Linked DNA regions of Homo sapiens. The protein of the gene in region 3 interacts with the protein of the main gene of each other region in a pairwise test. Each region holds a gene or a part of one and is shown on either strand. Other genes may lie near its edges.

Region 1 (3,297 bases), on a different chromosome or scaffold from region 3:
CAGTGTGGACGGCCATTTGTAATGGTTTTATTCTTCTATCGCTCTGCTTTCTTGTTGAGACAGAGACCCAAGGACCCCATTGCCATCATCTAAATCAATCCCAGGATTTAGAGACAGGCTCTCTGGCTGTGTGATTCTGAGCATTTCACAGGAATTCTCTCTCTCTCTCTCTCTCTCTTTTTTTAGATGGAGTTTTGCTCTTGTTGTCCAGGCTGGAGTGCAATGGCGCGATCTCGACTCACTGCAACCTCCACCTCCTGGGTTCAAGCGAGTCTCCTGCCTCAGCCTCCCTAGTAGCTGGGATTACAGGTGCTTGCCACGACACCCAGTTAATTTTTGTATTTTTAGTAGAGACAGGGTTTCAGCATGTTGGCCCAGCTGGTCTTGAATTCCTGACCATAGGTGATCCGCCCACCTCAGCCTCCCAAAGTGCTGGGATTACAGGCGTGAGCCACTACGCCCAGCCCCAAATTTTCTAAAGCACAGTTTGGACTCATTTGTCAACTGGGAATAATGATCATGTTTATTTCATGAGTTTGCTGTGAGGATTATTATTGGCAGTAATAGTAGTAACATAAAGGGCTGTCTTCATAAAGACATGCTCTACAGCCACACACACACACACACACACACACACACACACACACACACTCACACACATGAAAAGTTACTGAATTCCTTTGGAGAAAAATTAAAAATCTCATGGATATTATAATCTGTGTAGCTGTTCTATTTTCACTTTCCCGATTGGCTACCAGGAAGCTTAGGAGCAAGTAAGTTTGTTTGCTGCCTCCTTTTTTGGTACGTGGGGGTAATTTTTGCCTCATTCTCCACTTAATCTGCTGCTCAGAGAGTTCTCTGGCCAAATCTTATAGGTCTTTGTTCACCACCCAAAATTCTGTATGGGATGAGATAAGGTAGAAGCCAATGGAACTATCATCTTTGCTAGAAACAGAGTAGGAGGCAGCATTCGTTGAAAGAACAATGAGGTCAGATGCGGCGGCTCATGTCTACAGTCCCAGCTACTCACACAGGAGGATTGCAGGAGTTTGAAACCAGCCTGTGCAACATAGCAAGACCCCATCTCTAAAAAAGAAAAGAAAAGAAAAGAAAAAATTAGCTAGGCATGGTTGCATGTGCCTGTGGTCCCAGCTACTCAGGAGTCTGAGGCAGGAGGATCCCCTGAGCCCAGGAGGTTGAGGCTGCAGTGAGCTATGATTGCCCCACCGCACTCCAGCCAGGGTACACAGAGAAACCCTGTCAAAAAAAGAAGAAAGAAGAGGCTGAGGCAGAAGAATCGCTTGAACCCGGGAGGCAGGGGTTGCGGTGAGCCGAGATTGCACCATTGCCCTCCATTCTGGGCAACAACAGCGAAACTCCGTCTCAAAATTAAAAAAAAGAAGAAGAGAAGAAAAGAAATAGAAAAGAAAAGAAAAGAAGAAGGGCCGGGCGCGGTGGCTCACGCCTGTAATCCTAGCACATTGGGAGGCCGAGGCGGGCGGATCACGAGGTCAGGAGATCGAGATCATCCTGGCTAACACGGTGAAATGCCGTCTCTACTAAAAATACAAAAAAATTAGCCGGGTGTGGTGGCGGGCGCCTGTAGTCCCAGCTGCTCGGGAGGCTGAGGCAGGAGAATGGCGTGAACCCGGGAGGAGGAGCTTGCAGTGAGCCGAAATCGTGCCACTGCACTCCAGCCTGGGCGACAAAGTGAGACTTCATCTCAAAAAAACAAAAACAAAAACAAAAAAACAAACAAACAAAAAAAAAACAAGAGAAAAAGAAAGAAAAGGAAAGACAGAAAGAAAACAAAAAGGAAAAAAGAAAAGAAAAAAGAAAGAGGTGAAGTTGAAATCATTGGCTTTCCTTGCTGAACTCCAACCTCTCTCGCAGGCTCTGGAGATTGTATTCCCTGGCTCCGCGCCTCTCCTTTGTTTTGATGGCAGTAAGTCGCTTGGGGGGTCAGGTCTGTGTTTGGATATTCTGGGGCCCCAGCACTCAACAGAAGACCTCAGGGAATATGGAATGGAAGGAAGAAAAAAAAGAGAGGGAGGGAGGGATGCAGAAATGGGTATGAAAATCGATGTGAGTCATGGGTGAGCAAGCGAGTGGATAAATTCATGGACAAGCAAGGGAGTTCTCGCGGACTCCTCACAGCCAGCGTGTGGCAGGAATTATTATTATCCCAACATTCTCCAGAGGAGGAAACCCAGGCTCAGAGTGGTGAGTGAGGAATGAACGGGTGAGAGTGTGAGGGAGTCCATGGGGTCAGGCCAGTCTCTCAGAGGCTTTCAGGACGAACAGCACTCACACCGCCCTGCGAGCGCCCATTCCTGGAAACGAGGTTTCCTCTTGGGTCCCAGCCCTTGCCCACCCCCATCAAGGAGCATGGGCCCAGGCCACCGGAGCTGCTGAATATTTATTTGGCCCCAGGAGCAGTGCAGGGATGGGCTGTGTTGGAAGAGAGAGGAGAGCAGACGAGGATGGCTGATTGTCAAAGCAGGGGGCAGGACCCGGGGGCAGGAGAAACCAGGCTGCCTTCCCTTCCCGGGGTCCCTGGGGCATCTGGGTGTGTCCGCGAGGGTCGGGGGAGTGTGCTGGAAAGTTGTCGTGATTGGCATCGTTGGGGGTGAGAAGACAGGAATGGTTCAGATGGTTGGGGTGGAAGGTGGGGGGAGGGTAACCGTCAGAGGAAGCTTAAGGGTGGGGCTGGCTTGGCTTTGGCCGGTCTCGGGAGTCTGGGGTCAGGGGCTAGAGTCCAGGCTTGGCCGGGGGCTTGGGGTGGGAGTCAGGGCGCAGGCAGCAGCCTCACTCGGTCCGGGGGCCGCAGCGAGTGCCACTGGGCAATGGGCCGCCGCGGGTTGGCCAGCATGTCCGCCCAGTGCCGCAGGCCAGCCCCGCCGGCGGCCGCCCCCACGGCCACCCTCCCGATGGCCTCGTTCTTGCCCAGCTTGTCGTAGTCCAGCACGGTCAGCTCCACCTGCACCTTCTGGGGTGGGCGCGGGAGGAAGAGGAGAGAGGAGCGTGAGGGGAGGAGGCCCCGGAAGGGGCGGTGTCCGTTTTCACGGCTGAGGGTACCTCTCGCTGCCACCCGAGGGCTCGGGGCCCCGGAGCTCGGGACGGGGGAGGGGGTGGGAGACGAGAGGGACGGAGCCTGCGGCGAGGAGGAGGCTCTGGCGCCTTTCTTCCTGCGCAGCCAGGTTTCTAAGGAAATGAACCCTCAGGACTCGGTTGCGGAGCGGGTGTGTTCGGCGCCTCCTGGGGGAGCAGCCTCCTAAGAGCCGCAAAGCTGCAGAA
Region 2 (3,500 bases), on a different chromosome or scaffold from region 3:
AAATGAATAGCTACATTTATTTTTTTTCAGAACCAAAGCTTACATTTCATTGCCAGTTGCAAATGTATGGGATGCAAAACAATATCCAAAAAGATTTTAAAAAAACAGTAAATTAAAACAAAGTTTTGCTTCTTTTCTCCACCAGATCTTATAAGAAAAAAAAAATTCTACTGCACCTTAGCTAACATTTAAGAACTCAAGATGAAAATATTTACGCACAGCAAGCTGAGAAGATGAAGATGAAGATGGTGTTAGGATACCAATAAGCCCTGAGGTAAGAGAGAGCCTCCTGCCCTCTGCGTTAGGTTCCTTGAAAAGCTCAGTTTTGGATGACTTGGGGGCACTGGAGTAGGACTTGCTGAGCAATTTGTGATTTTTCAGTCCATATAATTCTTCCATTCTGAGATTACTAGAGTAAGACCTGCTTAACAGTTTATGGGGCTTCAAGTTTGTGTTGTGCTCACATCGTGGATCTCCAGAACAAGATCGAGTCAATAGTCTATGCGACTTTAGAGTTAGGCATTCCTCTGACTTAACAGCTGCAGGGCAAGGACGGTTCAAAAGTTTGTGCGATTTAATTGCTGTCATAGCCTGCTCCGCCCTGGGATCGCTGGACAAGGAGCGGCCAAAGGTCCTGTGTGACTTTGTGACACACACATCATCAGTCTTGACTGTGCTGGAACAAGTCCTCCGCAGCAGCTTATGCGTTTTGGAGATTCCGTCCTGCTCAGATTTCAGTTTGGATTTGCTTTTGCCACAACCAGGGGGAGGATAACTTGGCGACCTTCAAAATTGAACAACAATTACTACAGGGCAAATCACAGGTACATCAGACCATGAAGAAAGCTTGTCATGCTCAAACTCGACTGTGCTAATAAATATTCTACCACCTCATTTTAATATAGCCTACCCAGTCAAAACTGAAATCAAAGGTATGTGCAGAATGATCACAGGACTTGAATCCCATTTTTCCTGAAAAGCAAAAAAAAGGTTCTAAGATTTTTTTTCCCTCCTATCTATCCCAAAGCCCTATAATGAAACTAATTTTGGTAGGAAAAACTCTAGGTGATTAGAAAGCAAAGAATGTAATTTTAGCAAATGTAACCAATGTTAAATAAATATTAATAAAAACTCTAAACATAGAAATGAATATGTTTTTGATGGAATGCATCTAACTCAGTCTTTTCTTAGAGGTTATAAAGAAAATAAACAGATGCCAACACTATAGAAAGAATGCTGTAAGCATGAACTACATCACACACTCAGCATTCAGTAAGACAATGACGAAGTTGCCTGTTACCAACCTGCGCAAAGTAGAAAATAAATGCAGGGGAGACTTCACTTTCTTCTCTGACAACTTTTTATTGTGCAGGCAATTGGATTTTTCTTTGCTCTGTTTCCACTGCTGTGTAACAAATGTCTGCATGATTCTGTCAATCCAAAGGTAATTCTGTTATCACCATTCCAAGGCAATTTCAATTAATGTTACTGTATTTATTATGTAGAAAATGCATTTATCAAATAAATGCAAACACATAGAAATCAGTGAGACGCTAATTTAGAATCATACAAGATTTTTCATATGTAGGAAAGCATCATATAGCAAATTAGCAGAGCTTTACTGTGACTGGTTATATCACAGTAAATGATAATGATTACTATTTATTTAAATAATTAAATTACAATATTACCAGGATATGATAATTCAAATGATAGAAGAATAAAGATATAAAGAGAATTATAAAGACGGCCTTCAGGATCAACAACTTGAGCTGAAGTGGCAAAAAAATCTAAATTTTTTTTGGTGCTAGAAAATCAACTTTTAAGAAAATTTTTGTTACTAATTATAATGCTATTTATTAAGATAGAAGTAAAGCCATTTTCTTTTTACTTGACTTGCTTCGATATCTTCTTCATGAAAAGGAAAGCAAAGCTATAAAATCATACATAAAAAGAAAACACGCAGAACTGGCTCTACGTAGAAATATGTGGTCAGCAAATTATATCTTCAACACAGCCTATTCACCTTTGAAGATACTATACTAAATTTTAAAAACTGGGTATCCTTAAGTTTGTTTAGTTAATATCATAAGGCAGAATGTTGGTAACTCCTAATGTCGATATTTTCTATGTCAAAATCACTCCATCAGTGCTTTATGGTAAAGAATTCTGGAATGCCAACTGTGGACTTGGACACAGTGTTCTTATTTGGGAAAGGTCTTTGGCTTGGATGGCTTCTCTGTATCTCCATTTTCCACATGGCAGTGGCCCTCAACACTAATACTTAAGTAGACATGAAATTTTACAATTAAACATCAAGCATGCAATAAATTAAATGTGTTTCTTTTTCTTCAAAAATAACTTCAGGATTGTCTGTTTTTCACGCTCTTTTCAGTTATTTCTAACACATTGCTTTGGGATCAGGAAAATGATACCAATATTTGTTTCCCACTTACAATATGTCACAGAGTAAAACAGAAATGTTATATGCACATTTTTGCCTCTAATTTTCAGAGTACCGCAGCAAGTAGCTGTTATTCCACACATTTCACAAATAAGAGAACGAAATCTGCCCAAGTTAGCATAGATACAAGTGACAGAGTAGTAGTACGTATATTATCAAATATGGGTTTTGATATGTATAACACATGCTATTCAAAAGGGACAGATGTGACTCTTAGCACAACGCCAGTTACTAAGTTCTCAGGATCCTTCAGGTCTTAACAAACTAACTCAGATCGCCAGAAAGTATATCACTTAGGCTTTTTTCTGCTAGTTTTGATAAATTCAGAAGAATAAACAGTTACATACTCAATTATTTTGGGGCCCTTTTAGCAGTGGAAGTGGTGAGAAAAGGGGAATAAAACTTCAATAAGTGATGCCATGATTCCAAATTCACAGTAAATTCGCTCAGTCAGCACGAGAAACATTTTATTCATGTTTGAATTTTTTTTTACCCAAAATTTCAGCAGGATTTAAATGTAATAATAAGATCATCATTTCTCCCTGTACCTAATTTGAAATTTCCACTGACACAACCCTTTGTATTAAGCAGATTTTCTTCCCATAAAAAATTGCTACTCCTGTGCACCATTCTTTAAGAAAGACGGCAAGTGCTTGCCTAATCTTGATAAGCTAAGAGGAACAAAAAAAAAAACAGGTCAAAATGGCTAAAAATTTTCCCACTTATATATTACATTAGGATTCAAAGTGTGATTCAACATCTAAAATCAGTAATTCTTAAACTTGAATACCCAGGTACCTAGTTGTCCTTGGATGCAAAAGAAATTGTTTTCTAAAAGACATTCAATGTTGTGTTTAATTTCAGGGGTAATCTGGAGTATACATATGAACACATTTGGTATAACAACCACCTCCTTATAATAGAGAACCATGAAGGGACTTCAGTATTTACATTTGAGTTTGTGTTTACTATTGTGCTGGCACCAAAAGGAACTACTACCATTGCCAGTGATTGGCTGATGGTAGGGAAAAAAAGA
Region 3 (3,500 bases):
GAAGGACAATCCAGGGCCCTTCCAGCCAACAATCACACATACAGCTTCCAGCCAACACCTACATTCATGTCTGCACGCTTCACATATCCAAGAATGTGTCCCACAGCACTACTTGTGATAGGAAAAAATTGGAAACAGCCTTAATGTCCATCAAAAGAAGAGTGGTTTAGGCTGGGCACAGTGGCTCACGCCTATAATCTCAGCCCTTTGGGAGGCCAAGGTGGGCAGATCACTTGAGGTCAGTAGTTCGAGACCAGCCTGGCCAACATGGCAAAACCCTGTCTCTGCTAAAAATAAAAAAATTAGCCAGGTGTGGTGGTGCATGCCTGTAGTCCCACTACTCAGGAGGCTGAGGCAGGAGAATCACTTGAACCCAGGAGGTGGAGGCTGCAGTGAGCCGAGATCACACCACCACACTCCAGCCTGGGTGACAGAGTGAGAGTTTGTCTCAAAAAAAAAAAAAAAAAAGAGAAGAGTGGCTTAAATAAACCACGGTGAATTCCCACTACAGAATACTACACAGATGTTTTAAAAGAATGAATCAATCAAATGAAAAGATCTCCATGATTATTAAATTATAATAGCAGGTTGCAAAGTAATAGATACAGCATGATCCTATTTGTTTAAAAAACAATATCCAACACAAAGCACCAAGTTTCTTTAAGTACCTGTATAAATACATAAGCACATAGAAAATGACCCGGAAGGGCTAGGTGCAGTGGCTCACACCTGTAATCCCAGCACTTTGGGAGGCCGAGGCAGGTGGATTGCTTGAGTCCAGGAGTTCAAGACCAGCCTGGGCAGCATGGTGAAACCCCATCTCTACAAAAAATACAAAAATTAGCCAGGCATGGTGATGTGCGTCTGTAGCCCCAGCTACTCCGGAGGTTGACGTGGGAGGATCACCTGAGTCAGAAGAGGTCAAGGCTGCAGTGAGCCGTGGTTGTACCACTGCACTCCAGCCTGGGTGACAGAGTGACACTCTGTCCTAACAGAAAAAAAAAAAAAAAAAAAGACCTAGAAGGACATATCCTAAATTGATGCATGTCCCTGGGAGTGAAAGGTGATTAGCTGGAATTTGGAGGTCTTTTCCTTCATCCCTATTGTTGAATTTTTAAAGTGTATTTATGTATTCCTTTGTGCAATTAATTTTATTTATTTATTTATTTATTTTTTGAGACGAAGTCTCGCTCTTGTTGCCCAGGCTGGAGTGCAATGGCGCGATCTCGGCTCACCACAACCTCTGCCTCCCGGGTTCAAGCGATTCTCCTGCCTCAGCCTCCCAAGTAGCTGGGACTACAGGTGTGCACCACCATGCCCATCTAATTTTGTACCTTAGTAGAGATGGGGTTTCTCCATGTTAGTCTCAAACTCCCGATCTCAGGTGATCCACCCACCTCGGCCTCCCAAAGTGCTGGGATTACAGGCGTGAGCCACCACGCCCAGCCCACAATTAAATTTTGTTACCATCATCTGATCATAGTGTGAGAGTTACAAGACAGACTCTGGAGCCAGACTGCCTGGTTTCAAATCCTGGCTCTGTTACAAACTAGTGGAGTGACCTTAAGCAAGTTACTTCATCTATGCTTCCACTTTCTGTTCTGTAAAATGGCACTAAAATAGCATCTACCTCATAGGATTATAATAAGGATAAAATAAAATAATACACTGAAAGTTAGAACAGTGCCAGCACATAGGAAGTCCCATAGAAGTGTTAGCTATTGTTGTCATTATTATTAGTCTCTGGCTCAGCTGTTTGATAATGATGGTGATGGTGCTGGTGACAGCAGTGATGTTTTTCCCTAGAAAGGGTCAAGGTGGTGAGCTCCCCAGAAACATATTTTACCAACAACAGGAAAAGAGAGGCACGAACAACTATTGTTGTTGTTTTAAAGATGGGGTCTTGCTCTGTTGCCTGGGCTCAAGCAATCCTCTCACCTCAGCCTCTTCGAATAGCTGTAACTAAAGGTATGTGCCACCAGGCCTGGCTAATTTTTTATATATATTTTTAGAGACAGGAGCTCGCTATGTTGCCCAGGCTGGTCTCGAACTCCTAGCTTCAAAGAATCCTCCTGCCTTGGCCTCCCAAAGTGTTGGGATTACAGTTGTGAGTCACTGCCTAGCTGAAATTTGTTGAGCACTTACTATGTGCCTGGTATTTTATGTATATTATCTAATTGACTCTTCAAACAGACTTGTGTGATAGATGTCATGACCCCTGGAGCATAAGGAGGTAAAATGCCTTGCCCAAGATCGTCCAGCTATGAGGCAAAAGAGGCAGGGCTTGAACCCTAACCAGCCAGACCCCCAAGCTCCTGCTCCAGCCCTGGCTGCACCAGGCTGCCTGGCTCTGAGCAGCAGCCAAGCCTGCCATGCTCGGCAGTGTCACTCTGCCAGCCTCTCCCTGGCTCGGCCCCCTCCTCCCCCTCACAGATATTTCTGTGATCACAGCCTCCTCCTCTGAGGAGGAGGAAAGACAGAGATGGAAGGGAAGATGGATCACTAAGACAGAATGACGCTTAGTTGGGTGAGAGAGGGTGAAAAAAGGAGGGGGAGGAGGAAAAGCGGGAGAAATTGATGGGACAGGAGAAGGGGGAGGGGAAGACGGGGCACACAGAAGGAAGACATGGGAACTGAAGGAGAGAAGGATGGATGGGAGTGGGGAGGAAGGTGAGGTGTAGAGATGGGATGAGGTTATGGACCACAGAGACCCAGAAATCCTGCCAGGAAGAGGAGGAGGCTGGGCCTCTCCTGCTGGGCTCTCCCTCAAGCCAGTGGCCCATGCTGCATCTCTGAAACTGCCCCTAACACCCTGGACCCTCCACAATCTCCCAAGGATGGCTCAGTGCCACCCACATCCAGGCCCCCACCTTCCACCCTGCTCCCAACACACACACTCCCCTGCCCTGGTAGCTCCTCACTCTGCCCCACGGCTCTTCCTCCATCCCCAGCCCACACTCCCAGCCACAGTGCTAAGCAGGACCCCTTCCTCCCAGCCCTGAGGTGGTGGGAAGACCTAGTGGAAATCACTAAGCCAACCAGTGGCCTTTTAAAAGCCCATTTCCATAAATAGACATATGGAGAGGGGATGAAATGCTCAAGGCTGACCAGCTCCCATGTTCTGACCCCAGAGGAACTGGGGCCTCGAGACCTATGCCCAGCTCCTTTCCCTCTGCAGGGAAGCTAGAGAGTGGAATGGGGCAGGAAGCCAAGGCTAAGTGGGGCTGGGCACAGGAAAAGGGAAGGGGTCCAAGACACCCACATCTGATTCATTCTCATCACTTCCTTTAGGTCCAAACATTGAGGGGGCCTCCACCTCCAGGCCAGCTCTGGTGGGAAGAAAGAGGCGGTGACCCAGGAGGGCCAATGCAATTTCTCAGATGCATTTTCCCAAAGTGCAGGCCGTTCACCAGGCAATCAGGAAAACGGCCTGCAGGAGGCTTACTTAAGGAGCCGAGTGGATTTGAAAGCAGGAACAGAGGCAGAATTTGCACACGTCA
Region 4 (3,500 bases), on a different chromosome or scaffold from region 3:
TATAATAACATAATAATTTAATAGATATTGTGATAATGTAATAGAGCACCTAGATAGTTACTCTAGACTGCCTGATCAGGAAGCGCCACTCTGAGTAGGTGACGTTTGAACTGAGTACTTAATGTTAAGACAGAGCCAGCTGGCCGGGCCTGGTGGCTCATGCCTGTAATCCCAGTGTTTTGGGAGGCTGAGGCGGGCGGATCAAGAGCTCAGGAGTTCGAGATCAGCCTGGTCAACATGGTGAAATCCCGTCTCTGCTAAATATACAAAAGTTAGCTGGGTGTGGTGGCAGGCGCCTGTAATCCCAGCTACTCAGAAGGCTGAGACAGGAGAATCATTTGAACTCAGGAGGTGGAGGATGCAGTGAGCTGAGATCGCACCACTGCACTCTAGCCTGGGTGACAGGGCGAGACTCCAGCTCAAAAAAAAAAAAAAAGAAAGAAAGAAAGCCAGCCAATCAGAAGGACAGGACAGAAAGGAAAAGAACAGCTAACACAAACGGCTAAGTAAGACAGAATGAGTGTGGCCTACTGAGGAACAGAATGAAGGCTGGTGTGGGTGGGGCAGCATAAACTATAGGGGAGTAAATAGTAGAAGACCTGGTGGCCACCAGCCATGGTAAGTAATCTGAATTTCATTCTATGTGCCAGGGAAAAAGCTATTGGAAGATTTAAGCAGGAAAGTGGCCTGACTTCTTTTCAAAAGGCCTCTAGCTGGTGAGTGAGGGACAAGGTGGAAACTCTGAGCCCTGTTAGAAGCTTATGGCAGTAAGGATGAAAATGTATACTCCAATGGAGGCAGAGCGAAGAAAAATGCAAAGAAAGAATCAGGATATGTTTTCGAGGTAGTGACAACAGGACTTGATGGATGAGATATAGGGGTGAAAAAAATAAATAAATCAGAATACTGCTAGGCCTTTGTGAAATTGGGTAGTTGGTGGTTTAATTTATGGAGACAGGAAAGTTTGGAGAAAAAGCAGGTTTGGAGAATAATTCAGTAGCTGGGTCTTGTTTACATTTGACATCCCTATTAAATAACTAAGTAAAGATTTAAAGAAGGCAGCCACATATGTTAAGCTTTGAGCTCCAGGATCAGGTTTGAGTTACTGGCAGAAATGGTTCTCAAAGCCCAAATGGAAAAGCTGCTTATTTGTAGCTCCAAGTAACCAGTGTTCTTTAAAAGAGTAAACTTTGGAAAACTAATAGACACAATTTCATAATGATATATAAACAAAAGACTTTCTAAATTATGAGTCTCTTTAAGCCGATAACAGATTATTCCTTTAGAGATGAGATTCTTACCACTGATAATGAGAATGCGAAATATAAGCACACAGGCTCTGGTTTCAGACTGCCTGCATATGAATCACAGCTCCCCTATTTACCAATTAAATAGATAGTATTGGGTGAATTAAATTAAATAGTATTAAGTAAATCACTTAATTTCTCAGTGTCTCAACTTCCTCATCAGTAAAATAAAGATAACAACAGTAACTACCGCTGGTGTACTTGGGAAGATTAAATTAACTAGAACATGTAAAGCAATCAAAACAGCATCTGGCAGGTAGTTAAGTGCTCAACAAATGCAAGCTGGTATTATTACTATTATTATTATTATCATTATTATTTTGAGATGGAGTTTTGTTCTTATTGCCCAGGCTGGAGTGCAGTGGCACGACCTCGGCTCACTGCAACCCCCGCCTCCTGGGTTCAAGCAATTCTCCTGCCTCAGTCTCCTGAGTAGCTGGGATTACAGGTGCGTGCCACCACGCCCAGCTAATTTTTTGTAGTTTTAGTAGAGACAGGGTTTCATCACATTGGCCAGGCTGTTCTCAAACTCCTGACCTCAGGTGATCCACCTGCCTCAGCCTCCCAAAGTGTAGGGACTACAGGCGTGAGCCACTGCGCCTGGCCGCAAGCTGGTATTATTACCTGCAGTCTCCTGGCACTGTACATAGCAGTGTCTTAACACTTCAGTTTTCTAGTTAGGTGCTTGGGAAGAGATGTCATCAAAGATTCAGAATGAGTTGGGGAGGCATATGAAAGACCCTCCTTAAAAGACATGGAGGCTCAATGTTACAGACTGCTAAGAACATGCTCTTTAAAAATAACCTATCTGTATGCCAGTTATTCCTAAATCTGTATCTCAGCCTGGATCTGGCCCTGGGGCTCCAGACTCACATACTTAGCTGCCTACTGGGTACTCGACTTGGTAATTTAATAGGTATGTCATTGAAATAAAAAGGGAAAGCAATTAGTATTCTCTTCATCTTCAGTGAGTAAATGATCAAGTAACATTTTCTTTTTTCTTTTTTTTGAGACAGAGTCTCAGTCTGTAGCACAGGCTGGAGTGCAGTGGTGCGATCTTGGCTCGTCGCAAGCTCCACCTCCTGGGTTCAAGCAATACTCCTGCCTCAGCCTCCTGAGTAGCTGGGACTACAAGTGCCTGCTACCACACCTGGCTAATTTTTGTCTTTTTAGTAGAGACAGGTTTTCTCCATGTTGGCCAGGCTGGTCTCAAACTCCTGGACTCAGGTGATCTGCCCACCTTGGCCTCCCAAAGTGCTGGGATTACAGGCCCTCAAGTGACATTTTCAACTGCAGAATCCCTTGGCTCTCTTCCTTAAGTCACGAAATCCATGCTGTGATTGACATTCTCTCAGTTTTCAGCTTCACACTGAGAAAGTACCCAGACCGGTCAACTACATTAAAATCTCAGGCATTGTGTTTGCTCATTTCAGCATTAATATTTTCACATCATTATTCTACTGAATGTATTACTTACTATAAGTCACTTCAAACAGTTGCTGAAGGTTTACAGGGAATAAGGAAATAAATCAAATATTAGATGCCATTAGATGATTCCTGGGGTCTTATGCCTAAGGCATCCTGGGCTGCACACTCAGCACTGTAACTCCCAGCTGTCTTATGTTGGGCCATGACTCCAATTGCCACCAATGGAGTGACTAGACATCCCTTAAGGACCAGGAGAGTCCCTGCAAAATTCTAATTGCATAGCCTTCCACTCACAAAAGTGTCTAGATTGGATGAGAAATTATATGTCTGCCTACATACTCTGTAGCAGGTAACACGCATACACACATATATTTATTCTGCCAACATCCACCAAACACCAATTAAGTGCCAGGTCCCATGTTGAGCTCCAGTGCAATGTAGAACTCTAGCACAAAAATGACAGGTTTTAAAGAGCCATGAAAACTTTGTTACATACCACATCTAAGAAGACATGATAACAGCCAAAAAATAGTACAGTTCCTTAGACAGACAACAAACAGATAGGCACATTAGATAGATGTTATAAACCATGTACAACCAACAAGTATTTGTAAGTGACTGAAATCTTCCACTGCCTTGCTACCATGGATGTCAAGTGGGAACAGATTATAGCAAAAATGTTTATTTTTATAGGCAGGTAGCATAATCCACAACAGGAATAAAAGCACCAATACAACTATCTTTCCTTTCTCTGATTTAACATAT

The links. Proteins that work in one complex are often made in the same cells at the same time.
Region 1: the proteins of HTR6 (region 3) and SYT5 interact in a two-hybrid assay, tested with the Homo sapiens proteins (one large-scale study listed by BioGRID and IntAct).
Region 2: the proteins of HTR6 (region 3) and PARP8 interact in a two-hybrid assay, tested with the Homo sapiens proteins (one large-scale study listed by BioGRID and IntAct).
Region 4: the proteins of HTR6 (region 3) and CMSS1 interact in a two-hybrid assay, tested with the Homo sapiens proteins (one large-scale study listed by BioGRID and IntAct).

What each region holds. Positions count from the first base shown.
Region 1 is NC_000019.10:55,170,696-55,173,992, forward strand, and holds the end of SYT5 (synaptotagmin-5), read right to left. Parts: intron 2,990-3,297; coding exon 2,789-2,989; 3' UTR 501-2,788; downstream 1-500. UniProt on the Homo sapiens protein: May be involved in Ca(2+)-dependent exocytosis of secretory vesicles through Ca(2+) and phospholipid binding to the C2 domain or may serve as Ca(2+) sensors in the process of vesicular trafficking and exocytosis.
Region 2 is NC_000005.10:50,792,137-50,795,636, reverse strand, and holds part of PARP8 (protein mono-ADP-ribosyltransferase PARP8), read right to left. Parts: intron 1,431-3,500; coding exon 1,305-1,430; intron 785-1,304; coding exon 220-784; intron 1-219. UniProt on the Homo sapiens protein: Mono-ADP-ribosyltransferase that mediates mono-ADP-ribosylation of target proteins.
Region 3 is NC_000001.11:19,671,375-19,674,874, reverse strand, and holds part of HTR6 (5-hydroxytryptamine receptor 6), read right to left. Parts: intron 1-3,500. UniProt on the Homo sapiens protein: G-protein coupled receptor for 5-hydroxytryptamine (serotonin), a biogenic hormone that functions as a neurotransmitter, a hormone and a mitogen. Also has a high affinity for tricyclic psychotropic drugs.
Region 4 is NC_000003.12:99,820,862-99,824,361, reverse strand, and holds part of CMSS1 (protein CMSS1), read right to left. Parts: intron 619-3,500; exon of another isoform or gene 497-618; intron 1-496.